Regions from separate parts of the Homo sapiens genome. Here regions 2, 3 and 4 are each reported to be linked to region 1. The links are microRNA targets in miRTarBase. Many come from high-throughput screens and were not tested one by one. Region 1 holds a microRNA gene; each other region holds the end of a gene's coding sequence.

Evidence for each region. Region 1 holds the annotated microRNA hsa-miR-4746-3p (AGCGGUGCUCCUGCGGGCCGA, at 4,102-4,122, opposite strand). A microRNA usually pairs through its seed, bases 2 to 8, with sites in the 3' UTR of a target mRNA and lowers its output. Matches are read on the target gene's strand: a 7mer-m8 pairs with bases 2 to 8, a 7mer-A1 pairs with bases 2 to 7 and ends in A, and an 8mer does both.
Region 2: the mRNA of NANOS1 is a reported target of hsa-miR-4746-3p. Seed matches in the 3' UTR shown: 7mer-m8 at 681-687.
Region 3: the mRNA of TMBIM4 is a reported target of hsa-miR-4746-3p. The part of its 3' UTR that is shown has no 7-base or 8-base seed match.
Region 4: miRTarBase lists COL13A1 as a target of hsa-miR-4746-3p. The part of its 3' UTR that is shown has no 7-base or 8-base seed match.

The regions. Positions count from the first base shown.
Region 1 is chr19:4,442,803-4,450,142 of GRCh38, reverse strand. MIR4746 (microRNA 4746) reads right to left here and starts at 4,165; the gene lies at 4,095-4,165. It overlaps UBXN6 (UBX domain protein 6), which reads left to right. Exons shown (of 11, transcript NM_025241.3): 5 at 1,728-1,825; 6 at 2,518-2,593; 7 at 3,223-3,307; 8 at 3,424-3,643; 9 at 3,730-3,860; 10 at 3,946-4,094; 11 at 4,520-5,137. The coding sequence ends at 4,645. It overlaps CHAF1A (chromatin assembly factor 1 subunit A), which reads right to left. Exons shown (of 15, transcript NM_005483.3): 15 at 6,746-7,218. The coding sequence ends at 7,118. RefSeq lists silencers at 5,599-5,767, 5,877-6,171.
Region 2 is chr10:119,030,042-119,036,887 of GRCh38, forward strand. NANOS1 (nanos C2HC-type zinc finger 1) reads left to right here. Exons shown (of 1, transcript NM_199461.4): 1 at 1-3,689. The coding sequence ends at 639. It overlaps EIF3A (eukaryotic translation initiation factor 3 subunit A), which reads right to left. Exons shown (of 22, transcript NM_003750.4): 22 at 3,629-6,227. The coding sequence ends at 5,998. Among named protein-coding and RNA genes, the nearest start is that of NANOS1, 3.8 kb to the left of the region's middle. RefSeq lists silencers at 1-74, 445-744.
Region 3 is chr12:66,132,023-66,139,362 of GRCh38, reverse strand. TMBIM4 (transmembrane BAX inhibitor motif containing 4) reads left to right here. Exons shown (of 7, transcript NM_016056.4): 6 at 594-639; 7 at 1,197-3,517. The coding sequence ends at 1,403. It overlaps LLPH-DT (LLPH divergent transcript), which reads right to left. Exons shown (of 2, transcript NR_125724.1): 2 at 4,914-5,311. Among named protein-coding and RNA genes, the nearest start is that of LLPH-DT, 4.9 kb to the right of the region's middle.
Region 4 is chr10:69,956,531-69,963,870 of GRCh38, reverse strand. COL13A1 (collagen type XIII alpha 1 chain) reads right to left here. Exons shown (of 41, transcript NM_001368882.1): 40 at 6,829-6,867; 41 at 4,727-5,172. The coding sequence ends at 5,170. It overlaps LOC107984242 (a long non-coding RNA gene), which reads left to right. Exons shown (of 4, transcript XR_007062181.1): 2 at 448-553; 3 at 7,016-7,201. Among named protein-coding and RNA genes, the nearest start is that of LINC02636, 49 kb to the left of the region's middle. RefSeq lists an enhancer at 2,033-2,533 and a silencer at 6,983-7,052.

The sequences.
Region 1 (7,340 bases):
AGCAATTCACCTGCCTCAGCCTCCCAAGTAGCTGGGACTACAGGTGCACGCCACCACACCCGGGCTAACTTTTGTATTTTAGAGATGAGGTTTCACCATGTTGGCCGGGATGGTCTCGCTCTCCTAATCTCGTGATCCGACCGCCTCGGCCTCCCAAAGTGCTGGGATTCCAGGCATGAGCCACCGTGCCCGGCCTCCAGAGCTTTTCTTCTGGCTTCTCCTTGACTGCTTGCTTGTTTCCATGGTTGAAGCTTTGATCCAGCTGGAGCATGTTATTATGTAACATGGTGGGATGGAGCTGATGTAATTTTTTTTTTAGATCTTGGCTCAGCTTTCTTCTCAGCCCCACCTGTCGAGAGCACCTGTCTTTTGCTTACAGCTGTGAAATCCCACCTTTCTCACAAAGTACATTCCTGTATGGATTTGGACCCCTTCCTGGCTGCTGTTCCTTCGTCCCTTGTCTGTGCATGTACCCAGCTCCTGACCTAAGCCTGGCAGCCAGTCGCCCAAAACGCCCGAGGCCCGCTTTTGGAGCTGACACGCTTCCCTTGGCTGGTGTGCTGTCCCGGGCGCTCTGATCCCAAGGAAGCTGTTGTCTTGGGGACATGCCCATCTGGCAGCTCTGCCTCTCTGCATCCACGTGCTCTGTCCCGCTCCCCACATCATCTCAGCAACTAAACCGGCAGACTGGGCCGGGTCCCAATTTTCAGTTGGCATGAGCCCCGGCTCAGTGTGTAGGTCATTGGTCCGTGTGACGCAGGGGGCTGCTGAGGGACCCTGCTGTGCAGTTGAGGGTGGGGGGTGGTGGGTGGAGCTCTGGGCTGCCTGGGCAGGTGGCCCGAATCCTGACACATGGCCCTGGGCTGCCCTTCTGTTCACCCGCCCTCGTCTGGGCAGCCCAGGGAGGTGCGGGTGGCAGCCCTGCTTCCCAGGCCATGGGTGGCTCTCTGGGTGTGGCCGTGTGTGATGGCTGTGCCGAGCGTGGATTTGTGCCCCAATCTTTTCCAGGTCTTAGGGTACGTACTGTTCTCAGCCTCTCCATGCTGGGACGCTGTTCGCAGTCAGCAGGGCTGGTTCTGGGAAACCCCCAGAGTTCCAGCTATGACTTCTCCCCTCCCCCGGTAACATAGGTGGATAGGTGGGACCTCGGGGAGGGGCAGGGGCTGGGGGTATCCGTCTTCCAGCTATTGAGTTTCAGACATTGAGGGTTGCAGACTCATTTGTGTCCTCTCTGCCACCTGCCATCCCTGTGACCCTGGACGATGGGCCTCTCGGTCTCTTTGTAAACATGAGGCCCGGGAGTGGTTCCAGAACGTCCATCATGGGGCTGCGAGAGCAGGAGGGATGGGGCGTCCATGGTGGCGGGAGGTTCTGTAAGTGGCGGTGGCCTTGATGGATCTCAGCACTGAGGTCGAGTTCTAAAGCCAGAGTGTGAGGCACAGTTCTGTCGCGTCACACTGGCTTCCAAGTCCCATGGATCTAGCCTTGAGAAGGCGGAAGGGGAGACTTGAGTTCTGCTGGGTCTTGGCTGCGTCGCCTCTGCCCTGGGGCGTGGGCAGGGCTGCGGTCTTGGAGGGTCTCTCTTTTCCTTTCTGTGATGAGCGCACAGCTGGGGCCGCTCCAAGCCGCTGTTCTGCCTTCCTTTTCCTGCCCCTGTTACCTGGGCAGCGGAGGGCCGTGCGGCCCGGGCTCTCAGTGAGTGGCTTTCCCTGCTTCCCTCCTCCCAGCACTTCTCCACCGACCCAGTGGCCGCCTCCATCATGAAGATCTACACGTTCAACAAAGACCAGGACCGGGTGAAGCTGGGTGTGGACACCATTGCCAAGTGAGCGTGTGGCCCCTTTGCCCTGCCTGGCCCCTCCAGCTCATCCCAGCACCCCTCCCACTGGGGCTGTCACCCCCTCTGGCCCCCTCATTACCTGCTGAGGTGGGTTGGGAAGGAGCATAGGCCGAGAGTGAGGCAGCTCCACCCAGAGGCCTCAGGCAAAGGGCTGGGCCTCCTTGGGCCTCAGTTTACCCGTGTGCAAAATGAAGGTGTTGAAGGAATCAGGGGTTTCCCACCCTGGCTTCCTTGGGGAACATGTGGAGGAGGCAGGGTCCCACCCCACTCCCCGGGTCTCAGGATCGGGGGCAGGCCTGGAGGTCCACGCTGCCCGCCAACGCCGAGGGAGCACCCCGCAGGAGCCCCCTGCTGGCACTGCGGCCCTTCAGCTCTGGCTCTCCACTCTTCCGGCACTGTGGCTTCCCCACCGCTGTGGTTAATTGTGCCCTTCCAGGGCTGGTGGGACGGTGAGGGGTTCCGTGGGGCTCCTGCTGGCACCAGGGGTGGGCTCCATGGGGTGTCCGAGGTGTGCCTTCCACCCGGAGATGGTCTGCTGCCCTCGCGTCACTGGGCCGCTTCTTCCCTCTGACTAGAGGCCAAGTGTGGCTGAGCTGCTGTTACCTGGAGCAGGAGGCACAGAGGGGCCGGGTGGGCAGCCTGGGCTGTGCCCCACTCACCTTCTCCACCTACCCCAGGTACCTGGACAACATCCACCTGCACCCCGAGGAGGAGAAGTACCGGAAGATCAAGCTGCAGAACAAGGTGTTTCAGGTGGGCGTGCCTTCTGGCCCCCGGGGCCCAGGCTGGGGGTGGGGGCAGCTGGCCTGCAGGAGCCGGTGGTGGCCCACACCAGGCGGTGGGCTCCCTGGAGGAGCTAGCGAGAGTTGAGCCACAAGCAGTGAAGGGTTCGGCCAGTAGAAGGTAGCAGGACAAGATGGAGAGCAAGACTTTTATGCACCGGTCACCCCAAATCAACAAATTCTGCCTCTCCTCACCTGCATCCTTTTCCTCCTCTTCAGCTGGGCTTGTTTGGGAACATGTCGACTCTGGGGAGGTTTCTCATGCAAACCAGATGTCTGGTTCTTCTGGGGGAAAGGGCAGGGACTGGGGTCCTGGGCGGTGTTAGCCTCGCATCAGGCCCCAGCAGTGTCTGGCTCCTCAGCCTCACTCTTCGTGCCTGGTTGTGACTCTTTCCTCTGTGCAGAGCTGTTGGAGACTCCACAGCCCCCACCGTAGAAAAGCAGGTTTGCATCCAGCACTGAGGCACCCCCAGGGCTGGGCCCCATCCAGGGGTCGACAGCTGCTCCCAATAGCGAGAGCCGGGCCCCTGGACTGGGTGGGGTGTGGCCAGGCCATGGAGGAAGCCAGGGGCCCCCAGTGACGCCCATCTCCACCCCCAGGAGCGCATTAACTGCCTGGAAGGGACCCACGAGTTTTTTGAGGCCATTGGGTTCCAGAAGGTGTTGCTTCCCGCCCAGGATCAGGGTAAGTGGACAGGGCCTGGCTGAGTAGGGAATGGGGACGAGGGGCCTCGGGGCAGGAGGGCCCGGCTTGGGGGTCTCTCCATTGCACAGTGACACCCATGTCCTGCCACGCTGTAGAGGACCCCGAGGAGTTCTACGTGCTGAGCGAGACCACCTTGGCCCAGCCCCAGAGCCTGGAGAGGCACAAGGAACAGCTGCTGGCTGCGGAGCCCGTGCGCGCCAAGCTGGACAGGCAGCGCCGCGTCTTCCAGCCCTCGCCCCTGGCCTCGCAGTTCGAACTGCCTGGGGACTTCTTCAACCTCACAGCAGAGGAGATCAAGCGGGAGCAGAGGCTCAGGTGGGCCTGACGTCCGCGGAGCAGAGTGGGGCGGGGCGGGGTGGAAGAACCCCGGCCAGCCCTCGTGACCTGGCCCGCGTGTGCAGGTCCGAGGCGGTGGAGCGGCTGAGCGTGCTGCGGACCAAGGCCATGCGGGAGAAGGAGGAGCAGCGGGGGCTGCGCAAGTACAACTACACGCTGCTGCGCGTGCGCCTCCCCGATGGCTGCCTCCTGCAGGGTGGGCACCAACGATGCCCGTGGAGGGCGGCTCGGGTTGGTAGGGGGCCCTGGGCCCCACCCGCTCTGACTCCCCCACTCCCCAGGCACTTTCTACGCTCGGGAGCGGCTGGGGGCGGTGTACGGGTTCGTCCGGGAGGCCCTGCAGAGCGACTGGCTGCCTTTTGAGCTGCTGGCCTCGGGAGGGCAGAAGCTGTCCGAGGACGAGAACCTGGCCTTGAACGAGTGCGGGCTGGTGAGTGTCGGCCCGCAGGAGCACCGCTGACCCGATGCCTCTGCAGGTTCTCCTGGGACCGGCACAGACACCCCCAGGAGGGAGCCTCCTTGTTCTCAGAGCAGGGGGCCTGGGCAGGTCCCTGGGTTTGAATCCTGCTTTCCCACTTACTGGCAGCAGGGCCTCGAGCAAGTTCATAACTACTCCACGCCTCAGTTTCCCCATCAAATGGGAGCGGTGACGTGCGTTAGCTAGTGCAGTAGGTTTAGGCTTAGGTCCTGGAGTCCCGGAGGGAGAGGGCAGGAGGCCTGGGTGCGAGCCACAGCCTCCACCAGCTGAGATGGCTTCCAGGCCGGGGCATCCCCGCGCCCAGGTTGCCCGCTGAGTTCCCTGCCGCGGCAAGGGCCGACTCTCGGTCTCAGAGTGACGGCCTACCCCTACCGCAGGTGCCCTCTGCCCTCCTGACCTTCTCGTGGGACATGGCTGTGCTGGAGGACATCAAGGCCGCGGGGGCCGAGCCGGACTCCATCCTGAAACCCGAGCTCCTGTCAGCCATCGAGAAGCTCTTGTGAAATAAAAGCAGGGTTGGCCTCAGCCCTGTGGGTCTGTCTCATGCTCTCCCTGTTCCTCTCCCCGCCACCCCAGGGCCTCCAAGCCACCTCTGGAAATACTTGGCTCTGCCCCATGGGCACGGGAGGGGCGCCAGCCGTGGAGCTGTGGAATTGGGCCCCGTGGCAGAGCCCCCATCCCTTGGGGGCTGTGGGGATGCGCCCAAGCCCCCGAGGGAGAGGCCTGGGGACACCAACAAATCTAAGCCCTCCCTAGCTGCTTGGTAACTGTGTCATGAAGCTGCCGGACAGACACACGTGGCATCTCCCTGGGCAGGAGAGCAGGCCTGCAGCATGGGTCCTGTTCCCGTGTGCCGTGGGTGGCAGTGGCTGCACCTGGCACTAGGGCTGCTCTGTGGATGTGGGTGACAACGGCAGGAGGGGATGCTGGCCTTCCTGCACATAGACCTGCAGTTAGTAAATCATAAGCCCAAATAAACAGGTTGTTTGAATATAGTTTCTTGGTTCTCCGTTGAAACCGTGGGACACAGGGCAGGCCCACCTGCTGAAGAGCGGATGGCTTGGGGGCTGGGTGTGGCTCCCTGTCAAGGTGGGACCATGTGGATACCTGTTCTCAGGCCAGCACCTGGCCACAAGTGCCCGATGAGCCACCCACCTGGGGAGGAAGTCCCGTGCGCTAGGGGAGGCTGTGCTGTGCCCACAAAGGCCCAGTCCCTGCAGGGGAGGCGAGTGCTGTCACAGGCCTGGCTTCCCTGTGGCCAGAGGGACAGGGTGTCCTGAGACGGCCACATCCTATTCCTGGAACCTGCAGATGCGCAACTTCACCTGGCAAGAGGGGCTTGGGTATGATGAAAGGTCTTGAGCTGGGAGATGATCCTGGGTGGTCCGGGACCCAGTGTCCTCACAAGAGGTGGCAGGAGGGTGAATCAGAGAGAGACTGGAAGAGGCTGCGCATGGCTGTGAAGGTGGAGGAAGGGACCCCGAGCTGAGGGATGCAGCGCCTCCGAGCACTGGGAAACTCTCCAGGAGGGCCTGGTCCTGCCCACAGCTTGATGTTAGCCTGGCGGGGCATGTGTGCACTCTGACCCCCAAGCTGTGAGATGGTGACTTGCTTTAAGCCACCAGGTTTGTGGTACAGCAGCCCCAGGAGACACAGGGACTCTGCCCTGCAGTGTGGAAGGCATGTGTGCCCCGGCCCCACTGCTGACTTGGGGATGCAGGTCTGCACCTGGGGGAGGTGCCCGGGGCCTATGCTCGTGCCCCTGACCTTGCATTGGTCCCTCCCTCGCCCCCGGCACTGCCCCAGCTGGTGTGGGCACCCGGCCTGTTGAGAATGGAGGCTGTCACTCCAGTCCTGCGTCCTGCAGGCCCCAGGACCTGATTCCGGGTTGTCGGGAGCCCCTGTAAAGCTCATCAAAGGTGTGGCACAGGGGCAGCCTCTGCTTCAGGCACAGCTGAATCCTGCTTCCCAGCAGGAAGGCCTGGCCCGGGCGCCCTGCCGTCCCTGACTGGGTGGATGGAGGTAGCTGACACTTTTCCCACATAGGGTTCCCTGAAGGGAAGCTTAGGACTTCAGGTGGGGTGTGGCTGGGAAGAGCAGGACTGGCGAGCGTGACCCTCCCCGTGGCTGCGTGTGCTCTGAGCTGCTCAGTACCACAGCGGCTGTCGCCTGTCCTCCCTCGGACAGTGTGGATAAAGCCCACTCAACCTGGGGCGGGGAGGAGGTCACCTTCTAGCTCCAGCACTCGCAAAAGATGCACCTGACCTGGGGTGGGCTCTCACAAAGCCTCAGACTCGAAGCCAAACTCGGCTCCCAGCAGCTCCGGGTTCAGGGAGGTGACCCTAGCAGGTCTCTGGGAACACCCTCTCCTAACCCCCCAACCCAGGGCAGGAGGGATCGCCGGACAGAAGCACGTGCGGAAAAACCCGCACCTTGACCCAGGTCAGCCTGGTATGAGGGTGACTTAGTGACAAACAGATGGGACGGTGCTGTTGCAGGGCACAAGGCTGGCCCCAGACACCAGGCACCACATGGGGCCGGGCCATGGGCAAGGTGCACTCTCAGAGAAACACAATGTTTTCGGAAAAGACAGACAGAGCAGCTCAGGGCTAGAGAATAAGTTTATACACTGCCTCGTTAGGTCCAGGGGCCCGCGCACGTGGCCAGGCGGGTGGTCCTGACGCTTCAATTCATTTACAAGTATTGGATTCCACGCCTGCTCCTGTGCCCGCAGGCTTCCCCAATAGGCCAGCAATCTCAATAATGCTTTATTAAAGGGCAGATTCATATGCGGCTCTTGGGGGAATTTTTACAAATATCAAAGGAACTAATCCAGCATCCTATATAGAACTCTGCACACTTTGGGGAGGTCCGTGAAGCAGGACAAAGTGCTCTTTACACAGGAATTGAGTCGGTTCAAGTATCTGCTCTGTGGGGAGGACACCCTAAGCATTCTACATACGTCACCCCTGCTCTCAGGATGCACCCAGTGGGCTCGCGGTCAGGGTGGCCTTGCCGGTGTCCACCCCCACACCACCCCCAGCTCCGGAAGCGGCTCCACACGGGGCTTGGACCTCTGCAGGGCAAGAGAGGGAGGGTCTTGAGCTGGCTGGGCCCTCTGGGCTCCCTGGGGGAAGACCCCACCCTGCTGCCTCATGGGGCCTGCAACAACCCCAGGGCGGGACCCTCCACCTGACA
Region 2 (6,846 bases), not on the chromosome of region 1:
TCGTCGTCCTGCTGCTCCCCCCACACGGGGGCCGGGCCTGGGGCGCTGGGGCCGGCGCTGGGGCCGCCCGACTACGACGAGGACGACGACGACGACAGCGACGAGCCGGGGTCCCGGGGCCGCTACCTGGGGAGCGCGCTGGAATTGCGCGCGCTGGAGCTGTGCGCGGGCCCCGCCGAGGCCGGGCTGCTGGAGGAGCGCTTCGCCGAGCTGAGCCCGTTCGCGGGTCGTGCCGCCGCCGTGCTGCTGGGCTGCGCGCCCGCCGCCGCCGCCGCCGCCACCACCACCAGCGAGGCGACGCCGCGCGAGGAGCGGGCCCCGGCGTGGGCGGCCGAGCCCCGGCTGCACGCGGCCTCCGGGGCGGCGGCCGCCCGGCTGCTGAAGCCCGAGCTGCAGGTGTGCGTGTTCTGCCGGAACAACAAGGAGGCGATGGCGCTCTACACCACCCATATCCTCAAGGGCCCCGACGGGCGAGTGCTGTGTCCCGTGCTGCGCCGCTACACGTGTCCCCTGTGCGGCGCCAGCGGCGACAACGCGCACACCATCAAGTACTGCCCGCTCTCCAAAGTGCCGCCGCCGCCCGCCCGCCCGCCGCCCCGCAGCGCCAGGGACGGCCCGCCTGGCAAGAAGCTGCGCTGAAGGCCCGGGCTCCCGGCCGCCCAGGGTCGCCGCCGCCCCTCGCACCGCTAGGTCTGCGCACCATCTCGCCCCCGCCGTGGGGAGGCGTGCGGCTCAGCGGTCGGCTCGACATGGGACGTCGTCCTGGTGGTTTTTGAAAAGCAGCCGACCGTGTGGAGTACTTCCGTGCTGAACGATTGGGACTAGACGCTGAAATCCCCATTTGTCTTCAGTTTCTAGTTTGCACATCCAGAACGGCGAAGGCTGGGTGTGTATTCCACTAACTGAAATATGGCAACTTAGAGGCGCTGTTTATTTACTGTATACGTCGACCTATTTTAGATGCGCATCAGTATGAAATTGTCTCAATCTTGGATGTTTCATTTTATGAATGGAGGCACTTTACTAGGTCTAGAATATTTTTTTAAAAGCCTCTGAACTGAGCTTAAAACTGGCGATTTTATGAAATGTCGGCAAAATGACTATTTTATTGTTTGAAGCGAGTTAATATTCTCAGTTGTCTTTAAAAATCAGTTACTCTAATTCCAGGTGAAGCAAGCCGCTGGTAGCATCACCCTTATGAGAAGTGAAGGTTTTGTAAACTTTCCAGTATTAATTTGGGCGGGTATTCCCCGCTTGTGGCTTGTTTCTGTCCTAGCTGGAGGTGTAAAATGCACAATGTGTAGCAGGTAGAATACAGCTCCTTATCGTTCTATGTACCAGGTATTTTATTACTGAACTAGCAACTAGCCTTTTCCACCTTTAAAAGTTGTGCCAAGTCATAATCATATTGTGTATAACTTGGAAATGGTGCTGTTTAAAAAAATTGTGTATTTATACAGTAACAGTATGAATTCATTAATCTCACCTGTAACTTTCCTACTTGGCATTTTCTCTACACACTCACCCTCTTCCAGTTCTTTAAAAACGTTTATGATATTAAGATCAAAGGGAGGAAGGGAAGACAGCAGTATTAATTCACCCTAGATTACTCAATTTCAGGGTTCCTAGTGGAGGAAAGCCCATTCCAGCTGTTGCCTGTCAAACAAATAGAAGATGGATCTCTAGCTCTGAGCTATTCGTGTATTAACTCGTATTCAAGAAGGTTCCACCGTGGGCTGCGTCTGACTTTAATACAGGCAGTGCTCAAACTAGAATAAGCACTAATTAAAGGAATTGTTGGGGGTCCTTCATGTGTTCCCACTCCTACTGGAAGACCCATGTCGGTTTCCGGAACCCCACCAGTTTACCCATAAGCAAGACTAAACCTGATCCTTGGGCAAAAGTTCCTAACCCCTACTTTACCCTCCCACCCTCACTTTTAAATCCACCATACTGAATGCCACACTATGGAATGCAGCTACCTGCCAAGCAAGGCAATAGAAGGCAAAAAATGGAAGTGAATTAAGATGAACTCATCTGAAATACACAAATGCATTACTATCTGAAGATACCAGCAAGAGTTTAGTCTACGTGTATAAGGCTCCCAGTAGGATTTAGCTAGGCTACTAGAAGTTAGACTGCTTTCGCATTAAACAGCTAACTTCATCCACAGCAAATTGACTCAATCAGGAACCTTCATTTGAAGGTGTGTTAGAGGATGGGGTAAATACCCGATAGCTGTCTTTTTGGTGAAAGAAAAGGTGCATTTCAAGAACTTGGGGGGCAGGAGGAAAGCACAATGTTTCTTAGCCAGGAAAGACAAATAATCCAACGCTGCTAGTCTTAACCCCAGACCAGAGAGAACTGCAGATCTGACTGGGCCTAAATTAAGTAGCTTAATGAAACCATGTAATTACTTGTTCTCCTTTCTTTTGCTATAGAAAATCTACCAGTTTAAATGAGCTTCACCTTCTGGGTGAAGTTTCTAAGGTCAACATGAATCCTCTTACCTCTCTCACTGCTCGTGTTCTGCCTTTTCAAAAGGACCACTATGAACAGATCAGCGCATTCTCTAGGCCAAAAGGGCTAGCCAGGTGGCAAGATCAATTTAGCTACTTTGTATTTTCAGAGTCAAATTACAGACGGTTTCCAAAGGTCTTGAGCATGGGGCTTTGGCATAGCCTCAATATATGGGAGTCACTGTGATGAGATGTGCCTAATGTTAATTTGATATTCTGACATTGCTATTTTACCAGAACTAAGAACATATTGAGCTGGAGCTTCTTGAGGGCAGGAGAGTATTGGAAAAGGAATCCAGAAGACCCTCTCCACTACTCAGGCAGCCACTATTCATCTATTTTTAAAGTACCCCATTTTCAGGCCGGGTGTGGTGGCTCATGCCTGTAATCCCAGCACTTTGGGAGGCGAGGCGGGGGTGGATCACAAGGTCAGGAGACCAGCCTGGCCAACATGGCGAAGCCCCGTCTCTACTAAAAATACAAAAATTAGCCGGGTGGTGTGGTGGGCGCCTGTAATCCCAGCTCCTCAGGAGGCTGAGGCAGGAGAATTGCTTGAAACCAGGAGGCGGAGGTTGCAGTGAGCCCAGATCACGCCACTGCACTCCAGCCTGAGCAACAGAGCGACTCTGTCTCCAAAAAAGAAAAAAAGTACCCCATGTTCAGCCCCTGTGCCAAATTTGCCTAGGTTTTCCAGCTGACAATGAATACTGGGAGTTAAAACGCAGAGTATTACTATAGTTAATTTTCTAGGGTTCTCTTATGAAAAGTATATGTAAACACATTCATTTAAAAATCCTTGGAACTCAATGTGGAACTTTAAACATTTTGCAAAATTACATTTAGAGAAACCCAATTTTTCAAAGTTTAAGAAATATACAAAGTATGACAAAATTATCTTCATAAGAACATGCTGCATACTTGCCTAGTAGCAAAACAATACAGGGAAGAGTCAAAAGGGCTTCTCCAACTGTAGAGGTACAGATTGTCTTAACCTGTTCTTTTCTGTACAGACTTAAAATTTCTAGTGGCTTTTATTTTTCTTTGTATTTTAATTTTCCTACAAAGTCCTTTTTGGAAGTTGCAGAATTATTAGCTTTGATGAGAACAACTTTTGTCATAGATTTGATTTATTAAACCAAAATTATACATATTAAAATTATATCACAAATATATATGCTTCCAGACAAAGAAAAGTTTGTTAGTCCTGATTTTCTAATCGTAGCCACTCAAGGAACAGTCCTTTCATAGTACCCCAAGTATTTCAATTAGACTTATAAAAGTATAAGTCAATCTATGGTCAGTGTCTTTGGTTAAAAAAAAAAAAAAACACAGGCAGTTCTTTACATAAAAACGTCCCACACGTTATAGATGCCAGCCACCTCCTGGTAGTCACTATGGACAACTAATGAGATGCAAAGTCTTTTGGACCGATGATGTCTCTACTACTGGATCTATCTGTATTAACAGCAATGTTACTCTCAATGAAACTGCAGAAGCCACCATGAACATGGAAGACCACCTAGCAGATCGGTGAGTAGGCTGCTTGTTCAGCTTTCCTTTAACACCTGTTGGTAAATACTAATGGGAGTAGACAGAGTTGTATGGCCTGGACAGTGGAAACCAAGAGCAGGATCGCAAAGTAACAGCATCAGACTCTTCTGCCCTCCTCTTGCACTTGGGTTCTGACTCCCAGAACAAAGAACTTGGGAGAACAGTACGGGAGACTGAGCAGAAAGGATGGGTTTGCTGACTCGCCTTGAAATCTAACTCTAACGTAGGCAGCAGTAACTCGTCTGAACAAATCTGATTAAATAAATTCTTGGGGCTTACCTGTGATGTCACACATACAGATCTACTCTCCAGGAAGCAAACTCTTAGCAAGTTACTGCCCCACTTGTAATCACTGATCTGAAATTCTCTTGTTATGAAAGAAAAGTCCTTCTCCCCACGAAAGACCTTTAAAGACTTCTACGTATTTGAAATACCAGATACTAAGGTGTTTAAAATGATTTCTATCATTGGTAACATCAAACAAAAATAGCTGCATCTGGTTAAGTTAAAAAGCATCAATACTCCCTCTTCTGGCCCTACAGCTGTACCAATAGGAATTCTCACCACTACTCAATAACAGAAATAAGTGCCTACAGCCATGATGAATTTGTAACATTTTCTCAAATTAACTACGATTTTTCTAATTTCAGGTGAAAACCCAAGGTGGTACTTCAAACACGCACATGCACACACAAACTCAGAGGACAGCGTTACAAGGAAACTAAGGAATTCCTGCATTAACAAAGGAAGACATGTTAGGGGGACATCCTAGCCACATATGCTTTCTTTGTTATATTTAGGTTCATTTTCATTGATACTAAACACAGACATTTAATGGCACTGATAAAAATTCAAGTAAAAAAAACTCAACTGAATATGCAAACTTACCATTATAAACAAAATACTATAACCACAAATCAACACTAAAACAAATTCTGTAAGTATTTTATTTATCACTGAAGAAAAAACACAGCAGCAAGTTCTGTGTTGGCTTCAATGAGACCAAATAGTTCATCTTTAACATAGCTACTGCGCTCCAAAATTGAAGTCAACACAGTCATTACTACAAATTACTTGTTGAAAGAATCTATCTTCAAAAGAAAGAAAATTAGGAAAGAGAATTTAAACGATTCCTCCAAACCATACATTTATAAATATTGTCATATTTAAAATGCTTGAAAGGCATGAATTCTCCATTAATGGAAAAGCAGTTTGCTATTGGCAACAGAAAAAAACTCAGCGATAATTTACCAAATGCTTTAAAATTTAAAAGCTATACTGTTTGGATTCACACTTGCGCAGTAATCTTGTCATTACAACAACTGCAAATTGCTTTGTACTCACCTTCTCTCAAGTAAAATCTAAAGAAAACCCCACCGTATCCAATGTTTGTAATGTTTACTTCAAGTGAATCTAAAAAATTTCTAAATTTAGTTTATGGTAAATACCTCAAAATACCTAAAATAGGTACGTATCAACCACTTAAGGGTGTGAAAATTGTTTCAGATTCACTGCTTTAAAGGGTCTTCAAATATATTTTAACAGAACCTTACTTCATTCCAAATTATTATCAGATATTTCAAAATCAAAAAAAAAGTATCAGTTCTATACCAAGATAAAGGTGTTACTCAATACCTGAAGGGTCACATTTTAAATTTATTTTTTAGTTTTTCTTTTTTGTCAACAAATGATTGATGAAATAATGCAACACCCTTAAATTCCAGAAAATGGCATGGTTTTTCCAACCTCCTGTGGATATGGTGCATGATCAATCTATTATATAGGATTAATACAAGTTCATGCTTTTTGTGTTATGGTGAAACAACATTAAAGAATCCAATTTAGATTGGTTGAAGCACAAGTATAATAATCCTTGAATGTGATCAAACCTATTTAAGACACCAGTTTAAATCCATTATCTTGAGACTTAACGTCGTACTGTGGTCCATCCATCTTCATCAGTCTCATTTTTAGTACGACGGAGAGATTCCCTATCTTTCTCAGCTCTCCATGAGGCCTTCTCTTTTTCACCTTCTCTTTCTCGGTCTCGGTCTCTTTCTCGGTCTCTTGAAAGAGCTGGGGGAGGAACTCGACGAGGAGGGTCCCGCTCTTCCACCCGGTCATCTTTCCTGTCATCAGCACGTCTCCAAGAACTTACTAAAAAGTTTAATTAAAAAAAAAAAATTAAGTTAGTACTATATTCTATTGGCTCAAATTACTCAAAATTCCTGTACTAAAGATTGTTAAATACAGAAATCATTGTTAAATACAGAAATTCTGTTAAATTCTGTATTGTTAAATACAGAAATCATAATGAAAGCTCATACAATTTCTGACAATCTTTAACATACAAATGTACAGATAAAACTCAAAATCTGAAAACAGGCAGAAACCACTAGCCTGGGAAGGACTACAGTTAGTATAAACCCGTAAGACAAGGTGGCAAAAATCTGGCTGAATGAAAATTTTATAACTGAAAGGATTTTTGGCTCTTGAAGAATTTTAACAGCAAATTAACCATACAAAATACAGGAGTTTTTAAAGTTATGGCTATGAGAGAAAAATTCTCTCATAACAGGATGTCAAGACATATGGAAAATTAATTTTTAAAAACCAAGAGAAAAATGAGGATTTTAAAAATGAAAAATACATATATTTTAAAACAGAATAAACTTCTGTTACAATTTCAGAGAAAATGTTTCTACTTTGTGCTTAATCTGCCAGGAAGCTGCTTTTAAATAACAATTTTTTTCATTTTTATTAAGTAAACTTTATA
Region 3 (7,340 bases), not on the chromosome of region 1:
CAGCTGATAAGTCCCATATTTTATAACAAAAGACTGACTTCTTAGATGTCCTTTCTTATATAATTTATACTCTCTATATATAACAATTGAATTGTAACTCATAAAATTATAGCAGTGTCAGATGTGTCCATCAATTAAGTTCCATAATACATAAGAATAAAATGGAAAGTACATTGTGAACTTCGATAGACATGTTCACAGAATAACTTGTTATTACTTGGTTTAAAAGTGCAATCCTAGTTCATTTGTTTATATATTTTCTAAAAGTTTTTATAGATCTCTGAATTAAAATACTTGTAATGATATTTCTGCTTTTATCTGTATTTTATGTTCCAAAACTTCACAAATTATACTGTTAACTAGGTTTGTATACCATAAAGACAAATGTTGAATAAATAGCTGTTCTTTCAATTTCTTTAAAAAAAAGATCCAAGATGGGCATTATATTCATTGTATGTTTACAAATTCTTACATTTTAGTTATTCTTCAGCAAAAAATCCAGATGGATGTTTTTTTCAGAAAGTGTTGAATGGGTTTACAAAGTTTTTTTGTAAGGAACAATATTGCAAATTACTAAAATTGTATTTTTATAGGCTGTTTGCTCTTTTGTGGATATTGTGCCTGTCAGGATTCTTGAAGGTAAGTTATGTTATAATGGTTAATTTGAAATATAATTCTGGCTGTGTCAATATAAATAACCTCAAAAAGCTATAAGAGATACTCTTATGATAGGACACTTAGTTATAATTATCCAGAACATTTGTATATAGAATGATTATAGAATTATCCCTTTAGAAAATCAGGGTCTTGTGTTGGTCCTTATTATTGACTGAAAAAAAGATGAATGAATAAATGAATTAAATTACATAGAAAGAGGCCCTTGCTTACAACTGCCAAGCTCCAGTGGCACATTTAATTGTGAAAAACGAAATATATTTTTAAATAATTTATATGTGGAATGCTGTTTTTCAAAGTGGGTAATTTAGTTTAATGGAATATAACCACTCATTCATCCTTCCATCCAACAGAGGCAAGTTTGGACTTGCCTTGCCTTTTTCTGCTTTTAACATTTGTATTCAAAGTTGTACACCATTGTCAAATGTATAATGTAGCAGTAAATCATTAGAGGAAGTAAGTTAAGTCCTGTTAATACTGTTCTCAAATATAAACATATTTCTTTAATCTCTTCCCTATAGTTTTTTTTTTATAGTGAGATAATGGAGTTGGTCTTAGCCGCTGCAGGAGCCCTTCTTTTCTGTGGATTCATCATCTATGACACACACTCACTGATGCATAAACTGTCACCTGAAGAGTACGTATTAGCTGCCATCAGCCTCTACTTGGATATCATCAATCTATTCCTGCACCTGTTACGGTTTCTGGAAGCAGTTAATAAAAAGTAATTAAAAGTATCTCAGCTCAACTGAAGAACAACAAAAAAAATTTAATGAGAAAAAAGGATTAAAGTAATTGGAAGCAGTATATAGAAACTGTTTCATTAAGTAATAAAGTTTGAAACAATGATTAAATACTGTTACAATCTTTATTTGTATCATATGTAATTTTGAGAGCTTTAAAATCTTACTATTCTTTATGATACCTCATTTCTAAATCCTTGATTTAGGATCTCAGTTAAGAGCTATCAAAATTCTATTAAAAATGCTTTTCTGGCTGGGCACAGTGGCTCACGCCTGTAATCCCACCACTTTGGGAGACCGAGGCAGGTGGATCACGAGGTCAAGAGGTTGAGACCATCCTGGCCAACATGGTGAAACCCCGTCTCTACTAAAAATACAAAAATTAGCTGGATGTGGTGGCACACACCTGTAGTCCCAGCTAGTCAAGAGGCTGAGGCCAGAGAATCGCTTGAACCTGGGAGGTGGAGGTTGCATTGAGCCAAGATCACGCCACTGCATTCCAGCCTGGTGACAGAGCGAGACTCAGTCTCAAAAAAAAAAAAAAAATTTTTCTTCCTAAATTAGCCACGCATAGCAGTTCGTTTGCAATTCAAAAATAATTTTATGAGTAGATAAGAATATCAGTTTACCGTTGTCTAGTGATTTTATCTAAATTTTCCCTGAATTATTAAGTAATATTGATTTGGCTTTGATTCTGAAGTAGTAGAGTCTTTACCATTATAAACTGTAAATCTCTTTTTGCTTAAAAGGAAAAAAATGTAAAAGATAAATTCCACAGAGAATTATTCAGTATTACATTAAAATGTTAATGACTTTTTATTTTAAATTGTACTAACATTAAAAGTTGGCCTGAAAGTCAGATATTATGACAAAATTTGACATTAATTGTTTTTAAAGTATAGATTTCATTTGAAATTATAGAATGGTAATGTGGTTAGAGGACACCAAAGATACTGGGTCATCAGCCATTAAGTATATCTATTTCAAAATTAAAATATTTGGGAAGTATTGTCTTATGGTTTCATTTGTGTTGGTCCACACAGCATGTTAGGTCAGTGTACCAGTAACCAATGAAATTTTGTCAAATTCCCTCACTGTACTAGTTTGTTAGGCTGCCATAACAAAGTTCTACAGCTTGGGTGGCTTCAACAAGAAATTTGTTTTCCCACAGTTCTGGAGGCTAAAAGTCCAAGATCAAGGTGTTAGCAGGGTTGGTTTCCTTTGAGGCCTTTCTCTTTGATTTGTAGATGGCCATCTTCTCCCTGTGTCTTTAAATGGCCTTCCCTCTGTACTTGTCTGTGCCCAAATTTCTTCTTCTTATGAGGACACCAGTCATACTGGATTAGGGCCCACACTGAGGACCTCATTTTTCCTTAATTATCTCTTTCAAAACCTATCTCCAAATACAGTCACATTCTGAAGTGCTGGGATTAGGATTTCTTCATGTGAATTTTGGGGGGACTACAACTCAGCCCATAACACCCCCTAAGTATTTCCCAGCTATTAAGTTGAAATAAACTTGTAGTATCAATTTAAGCTTGCATGATTTGTAGATGTAAATTTGACTTTATTATCATTAACTGTTGAATTATCAAGTGTATGATGCAGTGCAATCAAGTTTAACAGCATGGTGGGTAAGAGCATCTAGATTAGAATCATTGCAGTCCAACCAGGTGCTTAAGTGACATTTGGCGAATTATTTATCCTTCCTTAGGTCTTCTGCCTCATCTTCATAATGGGAATAATGATGTCTAGCTTATTGGGCTGTTATAAGGATTAAATGAGATAGATAAATAAACTAAACTAAGTGCTTAATTAATGTCAGCTGATGGTATTAATACCATTTTCTTTTTTTTTTTTTTTTTTTTTTTTTAATTTATTTTTTTATTGATAATTCTTGGTTGTTTCTCACAGAGGGGGATTTGGCAGGGTCATGGGACAATAGTGGAGGGAAGGTCAGCAGATAAACAAGTGAACAAAGGTCTCTGGTTTTCCTAGGCAGAGGACCCTGCAGCCTTCCGCAGTGTTTGTGTCCCTGATTACTTGAGATTAGGGATTGGTGATGACTCTTAACGAGCATGCTGCCTTCAAGCATCTGTTTAACAAAGCACATCTTGCACCGCCCTTAATCCATTTAACCCTGAGTGGACACAGCACATGTTTCAGAGAGCACAGGGTTGGGGGTAAGGTCACAGATCAACAGGATCCCAAGGCAGAAGAATTTTTCTTAGTGCAGAACAAAATGAAAAGTCTCCCATGTCTACTTCTTTCTACACAGACACAGCAACCATCCGATTTCTCAATCTTTTCCCCACCTTTCCCCCTTTTCTATTCCACAAAACCGCCATTGTCATCATGGCCCGTTCTCAATGAGCTGTTGGGCACACCTCCCAGACGGGGTGGTGGCTGGGCAGAGGGGCTCCTCACTTCCCAGTAGGGGCGGCCGGGCAGAGGCGCCCCTCACCTCCCGGACGGGGCAGCTGGCCGGGCGGGGGGGCTGACCCCCCCCCACCTCCCTCCCAGACGGGGCAGCTGGCCGGGCAGAGGGGCTCCTCACTTCCCAGTAGGGGCGGCCGGGCAGAGGTGCCCCTCACCTCCCGGACGGGGCAGCTGGCCGGGCAGGGGGCTGACCCCCCCACCTCCCTCCCAGACTGGGCGGCTGGCCGGGCAAAGGGGCTCCTCACTTCCCAGTAGGGGCGGCCGGGCAGAGGCGCCCCTCACCTCCCAGACGGGGCAGCTGGCCGGGCGGAGGGCTGACCCCCCCACCTCCCTCCTGGACAGGGCGGCTGGCTGGGCAGGGGGCTGACCCCCCCACCTCCCTCCCGGACGGGGCGGCTGGCCGGGCAGAGGGGCTCCTCACTTCCCAGTAGGGGCGGCCGGGCAGAGGCGCCCCTCACCTCCCAGACGGGGCGGCTGGCCGGGCGGAGGGCTGACCCCCCCACCTCCCTCCCGGACAGGGCAGCTGGCCAGGCTGAGGGGCTCCTCACTTCCCAGTAGGGGTGGCCGGGCAGAGGCGCCCCTCACCTCCCGGACGGGGCGGCTGGCCGGGCGGGGGGCTGACCCCCGACCTCCCTCCCGGATGGGGCGGCTGGCCGGGCAGGGGCTGACCCCCCCACCTCCCTCCCGGACGGGGTGGCTGCCGGGCAGAGACGCTCCTCACTTCCCAGATGGGGTGGCTGCCGGGCGGAGAGGCTCCTCACTTCTCAGACGGGGCAGCTGCCGGGCGGAGGGGCTCCTCACTTCTCAGACGGGGTGGTTGCCAGGCAGAGGGTCTCCTCACTTCTCACACGGGGCGGCCGGGCAGAGACGCTCCTCACCTCCCAGACGGGGTCTCGGCCGGGCAGAGGCACTCCTCACATCCCAGATGGGGCGGCGGGGCAGAGGCGCTCCCCACATCTCAGACGATGGGCGGCCGGGCAGAGACGCTCCTCACTTCCTAGATGTGATGGCGGCTGGGAAGAGGCGCTCCTCACTTCCTAGATGGGATGGCGGCCGGGCGCAGACGCTCCTCACTTTCCAGACTGGGCAGCCAGGCAGAGAGGCTCCTCACATCCCAGACGATGGGCAGCCAGGCAGAGACGCTCCTCACTTCCCAGACGGGGTGGCGGCCGGGCAGAGGCTGCAATCTCGGCACCGTGGGAGGCCAAGGCAGGCGGCTGGGAGGTGTAGGCCGTAGCGAGCCGAGATCACGCCACTGCACTCCAGTCTGGGCACCATTGAGCACTGAGTGAACGAGACTCCGTCTGCAATCCTGGCACCTCGGGAGGCCAAGGCTGGCGGATCACTCGCGGTCAGGGGCTGGAGACCGGCCCGGCCAACACAGCGAAACCCCGTCTCCACCAAGACCAGTCAGGTGTGGCGGCGCGTGCCTGCAATCGCAGGCACTCGGCAGGCTGAGGCAGGAGAATCAGGCAGGGAGGTTGCAGTGAGCCGAGATGGCAGCAGTACAGTCCAGCTTCGGCTCCGCATGAGAGGGAGACCGTGGGGAGAGTGAGAGGGAGAGGGAGAGGGAGAGGGAGAGGGAGACGGAGAGGGAGAGGGAGAGGGAGAGGCCCCCTTACATTTTTGCACGCTATTAATACCATTTTCAGTTCAAAGGTGGAATGGACTGATTGTGACTAAAGATTCTGTATAAGCAAAAGTAGATCTGACATTTTTAAAATGTAAAACAATGCCATTCTTTTCACTAAATTATTTTTTATTTAGAAAATATAGTTATTTTCCATAAAAATGTTAACATGTAGTAAGTTTATCCTTTCTAAATGACTTAAATTTTCCAAAAAAAATTGTTTTAATTTCTGATAAGATCAATATAATAAGCGTGTAAAGGAATCCCAAGACCAAGAAGTTTGAAAACCTTTGGTACAAAATATTACATTTTATAAATCAACCATTGGTTTATTCCTGTGTTCTGTCAATGAATTTTATGTGGTATGTAAGTCCGTGTATGTGTCCCACTGTGTATAAGTATGAGTTCTTCTAGGTAGGGAATATACCTCGACCATTTTAAAGCATTGCATTAAGTAAAGGTGAAAATACACAGACTTCAGAAATATTAATAGAAAGTGGAATTAGGGCTGGGCATGGTGGCTCATACCTGTAATCCCAGCACTTTGGGAGACCGAGGCGGGCAGATCACCTGAGGTTGGGAGTTCGAGATCAGCCTGGCTAACACGGTGAAACCCCGTCTCTACTAAATATACAAAATTAGCTGGGCGTGTTGGCGCACGCCTGTAATCCCAGCTACTCAGGAGGCTGAGCCAGAAGAATCACTTGAATCCAGGAGGCAGAGGTTGCAGTGAGCCAGGATCGTGCCACTGCACTCCAGCCTGGTGACGAAGTGAGACTCCGTCTCAAAAAAAAAAAGAACATGGAATTAGCAGGACTTGGACAGAGCAACAGGCAACTCAGTGTGCAAGGGCCATAGGAAGAACAGCTAAGAGGTAGGAGGAAAATGAGGAAAGAGCAATATCTGAGAACTTCTGTATTTCTTGAACGTAATTTGGGAAAAGAGATGCAGTAGGCCGTATACACCTGCCTTGATTTCTTCTCAGACCTAGCTTCAGTCTACTTGATGCATTTCCAGGGATTAGTGGTCAACAGCCTGCAGCTGCAGGCCTTTTTTTTGGAGCAGCTAAGGACTTAGATACTTTTTGCTTTTTCCTTTCATTTTTCTAGAGCTTTGTCTTGAAGTCCCCATTATCTAGGGAATGGGCAACATGGGGTCACTATCTGAATCCCAGAAGTCTTCCTGTTCCTTACTGATTGTGCAGATCAGGGATTCCATGGGAGAGGCCTGACTGCAGGGGCCCCACTGACTGTTCTGCATCATGTAGCATGCCTTTTGGATGAGAAAATCAGTCTGCTTCCTGTAAGGTATTCAGGGCCACCCACTGTGCCTCTAGTTCTATATATAGGCTCCTTCCAGCTCTGTGATGAGCCACTGCAATGTTTAGTTGGACCCTTAAGCCTTGTTTGTCCATTAGGAGATAAAGTTTCCCAAAAACAGTAGTTTAGTTTCCTTCATCTTTGCAAATTCAGCATAGTGCCTATAATAGAGTGCATATTCAAAGGCATGAATGAAGGAATGAATTAGACTTTTAAATATACTAAGGCCACTTTTCTAGAACTGCTTTTATATAACTGGTGAGGGGACATAAGTAAAAAGGAGTAAAAGGGTGTTTTACTCAGCTGTTTAAAGCACTTGTAATGCTAAATCATGGCATGGTATTTTAACAACATGACATTTTCATAATAGGTAAATTATTTTTTCTGGTGCCAAGTGCCTATTCAAAAGTCTTGTCCTGGTATGTTAAACAAGATACAGTAAATATGGACTATCAGAATATAAGTTTTCTCTAAAATGCAATGTGCACTTATATTTTTGGGTGAGGTAGCTAACTTCTCATTTGAAAGATGAGG
Region 4 (7,340 bases), not on the chromosome of region 1:
CTCAGCACCCCTGCCCTGGCTGGCTGTACCTCTCACTTAGCACTTAGCACACTTGTCCCTGATGGGTGTGCTCCTGGTGGTTCTGGTGAAGCTCCTGGAGGGTGGATGGGTGTGCTCTTGGGTGTGCTCTGGTGAAGCTCCTGGAGGAGCTGGGTCTTACAGTCCTAGGGGCCTCTTCCCTTTCCTTCCCAGCCTGGCAGGAAGCACAGTGTCTGCACACAGCAGGTGCTTAACAAAGCTGGCTGATAACTCAGCAGGTGGTAGATATGTATGATCCCCCGTCGATGGCTGGATTGTAGGGGAGACACTGAGCTAGGTCCCTCCTGAGCCTGGGAGTAAGAAAGTCCCTGCCCTTTAAGAGTTCACTATCAAAAATGGAAGAGCCCCTTTGCACACTCTCACATAAAGTGGAGGAAGAAAAGAACACTGAGTTCCAGGCAGTTGCAGGGAGGAGAGACTCCACCAACTGAGGAGCCCAGAACCGTCTCTCCAGGGCCATGGGATCTGAGCTGGGCCTTGAAAGGAGGCAGATAAGAAGCAATGGCATCTCCAGGTAAGGGCCCGGCTAGGGCAAGCGTGTGGAGGGGCAGCAAAGTGTGTGCGCAGGGTGAGTGGCAGGCCTGGAAAGGAGGTGGGCCTGCTGGGGAGGGCCCTGGGGGTACAGGGGCCGTGGCCCTCTACCTCCCTCTGAGTCGCCTTCCACAGGTGCTTGGCTGTTTCTCAGAGATGAACTTTTCTAGCAGCCAGAGGTCACTTTGCATGTGGATTGCACCCAGTTCTGCCTGAGTGGCTAAGACATGGCTCCCTTCCCTGCACCATCCTCCTGTTTCCTTCACCACAGTGAGGGGCATCCTGCTTCAGCGACCCCTTGGGAGTTCTGCTCCTTTGAGAGGTGAACGGCTGCTCCTGCCCTTGCTTTCCTTCTCTGCTCCACATCTTGATGTGGTGTCCTTTTTTCTGAACACTCACAGGGAGCCTACTCTTTTCTTTTGCAATGATGTGGAGTCTTGGGTGCTTGATGTCTCATGCTGGCTGAAAATGTGTCCAAGTCCAGGGCAAGGGGAGAGACACGCTGGGGGAGTGTGTGGGGTGGTGAATGGGAGAGACACAGTGGGCCTGAGAGGAGGGAGGGAGGTGGGCCTCCCCATGCCAGTGCGGTGTCCCTGAATGTGTGTTGGGGCTTGGGGATTCCCGCGTGTGTCAGGTGGCCAGTGCTTTATTGCTTTCTCTCTGATACATCCTCTGTGTCGACACCAATGTGAGAAACAACCCCTACAGCTGTTCTTGCCCTAAGGCAAGCTGACCCCGCTCACCCTACTCCTGGGTGGCACAGGCCTACTCCAAGTTTTGTTATTTGGGGTTACAAAGCACACACATGCCACACACAGTTTTGCAAAACCAATGCCATGCATAATACTGTCACAGCCAAATAACTCTAGGTGGAGGGGGGGACATGGAGTACTCCCGCCTCCACAATCCTCCCAGGAGGTGACCTGCCTGTGGGGCCAGAGGGCCTCAGGGTGTCGGAGCTGGAAAGTTTTATGGAGGTCACCCATGTCCAGCTTCTTCACTTGACGCTTGGGGAAACTAAGACCTGGAGTAAGGTGCCCAAGCCACACAGTGAGGTAATGGTAGAGAAAGAACTAGAAGCTGAGTCTCTCGACTTGCTGGCCAGTGCCCTCCTCCACTTATGGGTTAACGACAACCCTCCCCAGCTCCATCCTATGCCATTCTGCCAGGCGAAGGCAGGGCCGGGGAAGGGAGGCCAGCACTGGGTGGGGCGGAGATGGGGCGGGGTGGGCATGTGTGGAAGGAGCCTCCTCTTCCCTCAGCAAGGGAAGCAATGTGGCTTCCCTTGGCTCACATGACCACAACCACAACTCCCCAGCCTTGGGGAGAGGCACCATTCGGGCCCAGATGACCCGGTCACACTGTCACCCATGGGGTACTGGCTCATTCTTTGCAGGTATCCAGGTGGACAACGCTAGGCATGTGTCCTGCTGTGCCAGAGCACGCAGCCACAGGCACTGGAATGAGAGAGGAACTGCAGGAGACAAACGGCCTTAAGACCCAGTGCCTTACAATTTACAAAGAACTTTCACCAACATGCTCAGTGGGCAGGGCTGGGTGCACCTCTGGCTCCCTGGGCAGGCAGTTCTCACCAGGAGGTGCCGCAAGTCCCCCAAAACAGACAGCATGTCTTTCTCCTCTGCAAGCCCTCTGTGGCCCCTGTCCATAGGGCTGGCCTTTCCCTGGTCCCTCCTGCAATGTGCCTGCTTCTCCTGTTCCATCACTGGATTGTTTCTTCTCGCCTGGTTGTCCTGGTCTGCTGGGCGTTAGTATGGACTCACAGCTACTGTGCAAACTCTTTGACCACGTGTCTTTTTACTTCTCATCTCCCTGTACTGCATTTGACACACAGCCAAGATTCAAGTGGAGAGGCTTGGGGGCAGGGGCCTGAAGTCAGGAGCCCGGGGTGCAGTCCAGTGATAGGGTGGGGTCCTGGCTGAGTACTATGGCAGCAACAACCGTGTGGGGAGACAATGTGTTTACACACACGGGGCTAAACCTCGGGGGGCTGCAACCCACTGGGCAGGGCAGTGTGGGCTCCGAAACCAGGCCCAGCCTTTTTTTTTTCTGTGACCACTAGGTGGCCTGAAGTGATGTGTGTGACCCTGCCTCAGTTACGGCAAGGACCTTCCCCATCCCCTGGGCTTCCCAGCCACAGCTGTCTCCTCTCTACTTGTTTTCCTTGACTCTGACTTTTAAACTTCTCTTTACACACATTTCTATTTTATTACATAGATTCTTGTGACTTTGAATCCTTTGTGGCAGTAGGTAAAGTGTCATAAGTAAATGAATAACCCCAGGACTGGAACAAAAGAGGTTTCTTTGCCCATTTACCCAGGATATTCAGCTAACACTGACTCTCCCCTTTCTGGGTTCCAGTGAATGTTCTACTCTATCCTGAGATCATCAGTGAGCTGTGATTGCCCTGGCCAGAGCCTGAAGGGGAGGGGGTCAGAACGGGGTCACACCCTGATTGCCTGGGCCCTCGCCTGGGAGGGGAGGAGTGTGGCCTGGAGGTGGGGACACCCGCAGCTAGGGTGACTGTGAATTCTAAGGGGCAGAGGATGTGGGCTGGGCTGCGTTATGACTTTTGGGGGCCCTGGGCAGTTTTGCCTTCCTCCATTAAAAAAATACAAAAAATTATATTTTACAATTGTGCTGGTAGAAAGACAAAAACAATCCTGGCTGGATTCATTGTTATATATTCATTTTTTTTTTCTAAATTTAAAAAGGTGAAAAATTAAGATATTTTTGTGGCCTCTAAAAGTACTCCGTGGCTGCTGGAGAAGTTGTCCCTGGGCTACAGGGCCATGAGAATCCGGCCCAGGGCAAGAAACATCCCTGGGTTCAGATGAACCCTCTTTGTGTCCACAGAGATCAACTCTTGTTCACTACTGCATGGCTTCACTTTTCTTTTTTCTTTCCTTCCTTTTTTTTTTTTTTTTCCTTTTTTTTCTTTTAAGGCAGGGTCTCACTCTGTTGCCCAGGCTGGAGTGCAGCGGTGCGATCATAGCTCACTGCAGCCTGAAACTCCTGGGCTCAAGCAATCTTCCCACCTCAGCCTCCGGAGTAGCTGGGACTACAGGCGAGTGTCACCACACTCAGCTAAATTTTGAAAAATGTTTTTGTAGAGATGAGCGTCTCATTATGTTGCCCAGACTTGCTTCACTTTTCAAATGAGGAACCCAAGACTTAGAAGAGGAAGTTGTCCAAGTTCTAAGCTAAGCTAGTGACATTTAGAGTAAGAATGTTGGTATAGACGTTTTGGGTCTGAGCTGCGTGTGATTTCATTACCATGAGCGCTTGTGAGTGTGACCTCATCCCCACACATGGCAGGGGTCTAATGACTGTGAAGCCCACTAATTTAGAGTTTTGTGTGACAGCATGTGGACAGAGTCTGAAGTTAAATTTCCCTTTGCGTTGTCTAGGAAGAAAGGATGTGTAAAGAAAATGCAAAATGTAAACCAGATGGGGATGTATGTAAAGTACTGGAGTAATTTGTTGTTTTCAAGCTTTTAGAAGCATGAATTTATGTTGTCAAACAGCTAACGATAAACCTGTATGCTACACCACAGGTAAGACTTAACTGGTCATTAAAACCGGTTTCCTGAGACCTTTTCTAAGCAATGCACTAAATATGGAAAGCAATACAACATTATTTCTTAAAAAAATAAAAACAACTTCAGATTGGCCCAGCCCAAGCCCAGATCTAGGCATGTTTCTGAATGCTCTTTGCTGGAGTGGAACAGCAGATGAGGCAAAGCTCCTTCAACTGCTAGTTGTGAGTGAACCCACAAACTCATATCAAGTCAACAGCTGTGATTAGCAATAGCTGGTACTAGGGACTGTAGCTCAAAACAAAACAAAGCAAAACAAACAAGCAAAAACCTACCATAACCCAACAGCAAGAGCAAATGGCTCCTTTGAAACCCTGGGTGCCCTTAGCACAACTGAACCTAAATGCTCACACAGCAAGCACTGTGATAAACTTGGGATCTGTAACAACATACATTGCTCGATAAAGTTCCCTTCCCTCCCTTTGTTGAACCTCACATTTCAAAACCTTACTCCACACTTCTGAGGACCCCTACTTCTGGGAATTCCTGCTTTCACAGGAGAGAATGTATTTAATATAATGATTAATCAGGATCATGAATTGCCATGTTTCATTTCCTTTAATAATGAAAATCCATAAGGGTTTAAAATACTCTTAGACACACCTAGCTTAGCAAATATCATGGACCTCTACATTTATGTGAATTCACACATGAGCTAGCCAGCACCTCAGTTCTGGCTGGCCCCCTTTGGCACCAGGACACAATAATTTATTAAGCTTCGATACTTAATAAATGTGCACAAATATCATGCAGACATTACGACCAAACAAAAAATGTATTAGAGACATAGGCTTATACAAAACATCTTGTAAACAAAAGGGAAGAGGTTGATATTTTCTGTACAAAATATGCAGGTTTTTCTTTCTTTTTTAATAATCTGTAAGATGCATCATACTTCTGGCATTTTCAAAAAGTGAAAACTGTATAAAAATAAATATTCTATGTACAAACACACACACAGGCCAATCCAAGGTTAGAGGCATCACTGCAAAACAAAAACAAAACAATGTTCTGTTAGTTTCAGTGGGTCTGCAGAGGTTTATTTCCTTTGTAGGAAGGGAGGTAAATCTTGTCCTGGGTTGGATGGGAGTTCTGGACAGGAGAACTGTGGGAACCCTGAGCCCCTAGGTGAAAGAAACTGGTGGCGACCTTAGCTCCCTGAAGGGAGGAAACCAAGTTCACCTCTCTGTGAATCCCCTTTGTGGTCACTAGAGGGCACTCTCTTTCTCTGCTGCCTTTGGAGGCCTGATTGTTGTAACCACTGCATTGTCCCAGATTGGACTTAAGGTGTGAATGAGTAGTCTTGAAGCTCTCTGGTTGCTTCTCCAAGACATTGCAGCTCTTGGTAGTGGCTGTTCTTCCCCTGCTAAGCACAACCATTTCTGTCTCCTAACCATTGGCAGCAACTTTAAAGAGGAAATTTTTTTAGGGGTCAAGGGTTCAGAGGTCTTATGACACCTCTGACCTGCTTTTGTGGCGCTTTAACTAGGTCTAAGTGGAGCTTGGCAGGAGGACGAGGCCAGCCTCCAGGGATGGATTCTGGGGAGGCATCTCTCTTGAGTGTTGAGCTTTTCCTTCTTGGGTTAGGGGGTGCTTTAGGTATCCAGGCAGGTAGGTGGTCAGCGTTGGCCTGGGGTCTTGGTGGTTTCACCACTTTTACCCAACCCAGTGCACTAGTGAGATTCTGGCATCTTAGTACAGGGGAGCTTGTTCATCTCATTGTAAGTGTGACTCTGCTGCCACTGGAACAGGACTGGATTCGTTGAGCACAGATTCTTGAACATGTTGGAGTCTCCGGTCCCTTTATGAGGATGAACCTTGAGACAATGGTGGTGGGGGGTTGGTGAGAAGACTTGGAGTGACAGGCAAGGTGGAGGGAGACGGTATGGGGCAGCATAGTGGCTGCCACCATTGCTGGGGACCAAGGCGGGTCTTCTGGATTAGTTAGCAAGCAGATGGCCTCTGTCTGCCTGGGCAGCCCTGTGCTCTGGGGAGCCATGGTTGAATGGGGCGATCACATGCAAGGGCACAGTCCTATGATGTCAGACTGCTCTAACAATGGCAAATGCCAAGGCCAGTGTGAATCAATGAAAACTCATTGTTGGTAGGAACTCTGGGAGCCCAGGAGAGATTTGGCTGCAGGTCACATGTGTGGTGGCATGAAGCTCTGCCAGCTTAAATGCAAGGGGAGTGGTAGAGTGGTGAGGAGCACAGCCCCTAGGGGAGGCACAGTAGCATGTGAGTTCAGAGTGAAAGCAACTGAGATGTCCTACGTCTAAGACATGTCATCACGTGGCATAAACGACCTTAGAGGAACTCTATGAGTGTGATCTGGAACTCCTTGGGGAAGTTCCTTGGGGGAAAGACACTATGTACATTGAACACACAAAGCATAAAGATGTCACCTGTGTGGCTGCATGGACATTCCGCCTAGGGTTTACTGATGTTCTAAGAAGCATTTTAAAATGTTTGTTAACAGCATGCAGTGTATGGGATGTTTAATGGGCACCCTGCCTTTGAGACAGTGACTATTTGACCTATGTCTTGCTGCCTCATCTGTAGCAAGGCAGAATGGAAATTGTGGAAGCTTTATGGCACTGCTGAGAACGGAGCCCCAGTGCACACCAATGGGAAGCCTTACCTTGTTCCAGCAGCCTTGGACTGGTAAGCCATCTTCGCCCTGCAAGGAGAAAGGAAGGCAGAGGGCTCAGACTTCCTGCAATGGTCCACCAAGTGGGCAGGACAGGGGTAACAAGGGCCACACGCATTTTGGCAGCTGATCAGGATGTGGCCCACCCACGCTTGTCTATTTCTTTTCTCTACTACAGGTCAGAACCTCAGAAGGAGGTGGAAACAAATCCGGCTATTTTACCATTGGTTAAAGGTCACATGCAGCTATAGTGCAACGTCAATAGGGGCTGTCCTAGCCCGTGGGACCAGCAAGCAGAGATGTCCTTCCGTGCCACGAAGAAACAGTCTCTGCTGTGGCCCTATGGAGTGCCGGCTGCTCACGGGTAAGCCACTCAGCACAAGGCGGCCTCAGTTTCCTCCTCCATAAAACCTTGGCAAGGACAGTTGCTTGATGTGACCGCTAAGGGCCTTCCCAGCCTTCTCATTCTCTTATTTGTCTCTCTTCCTAAGCACAGGGAGGAG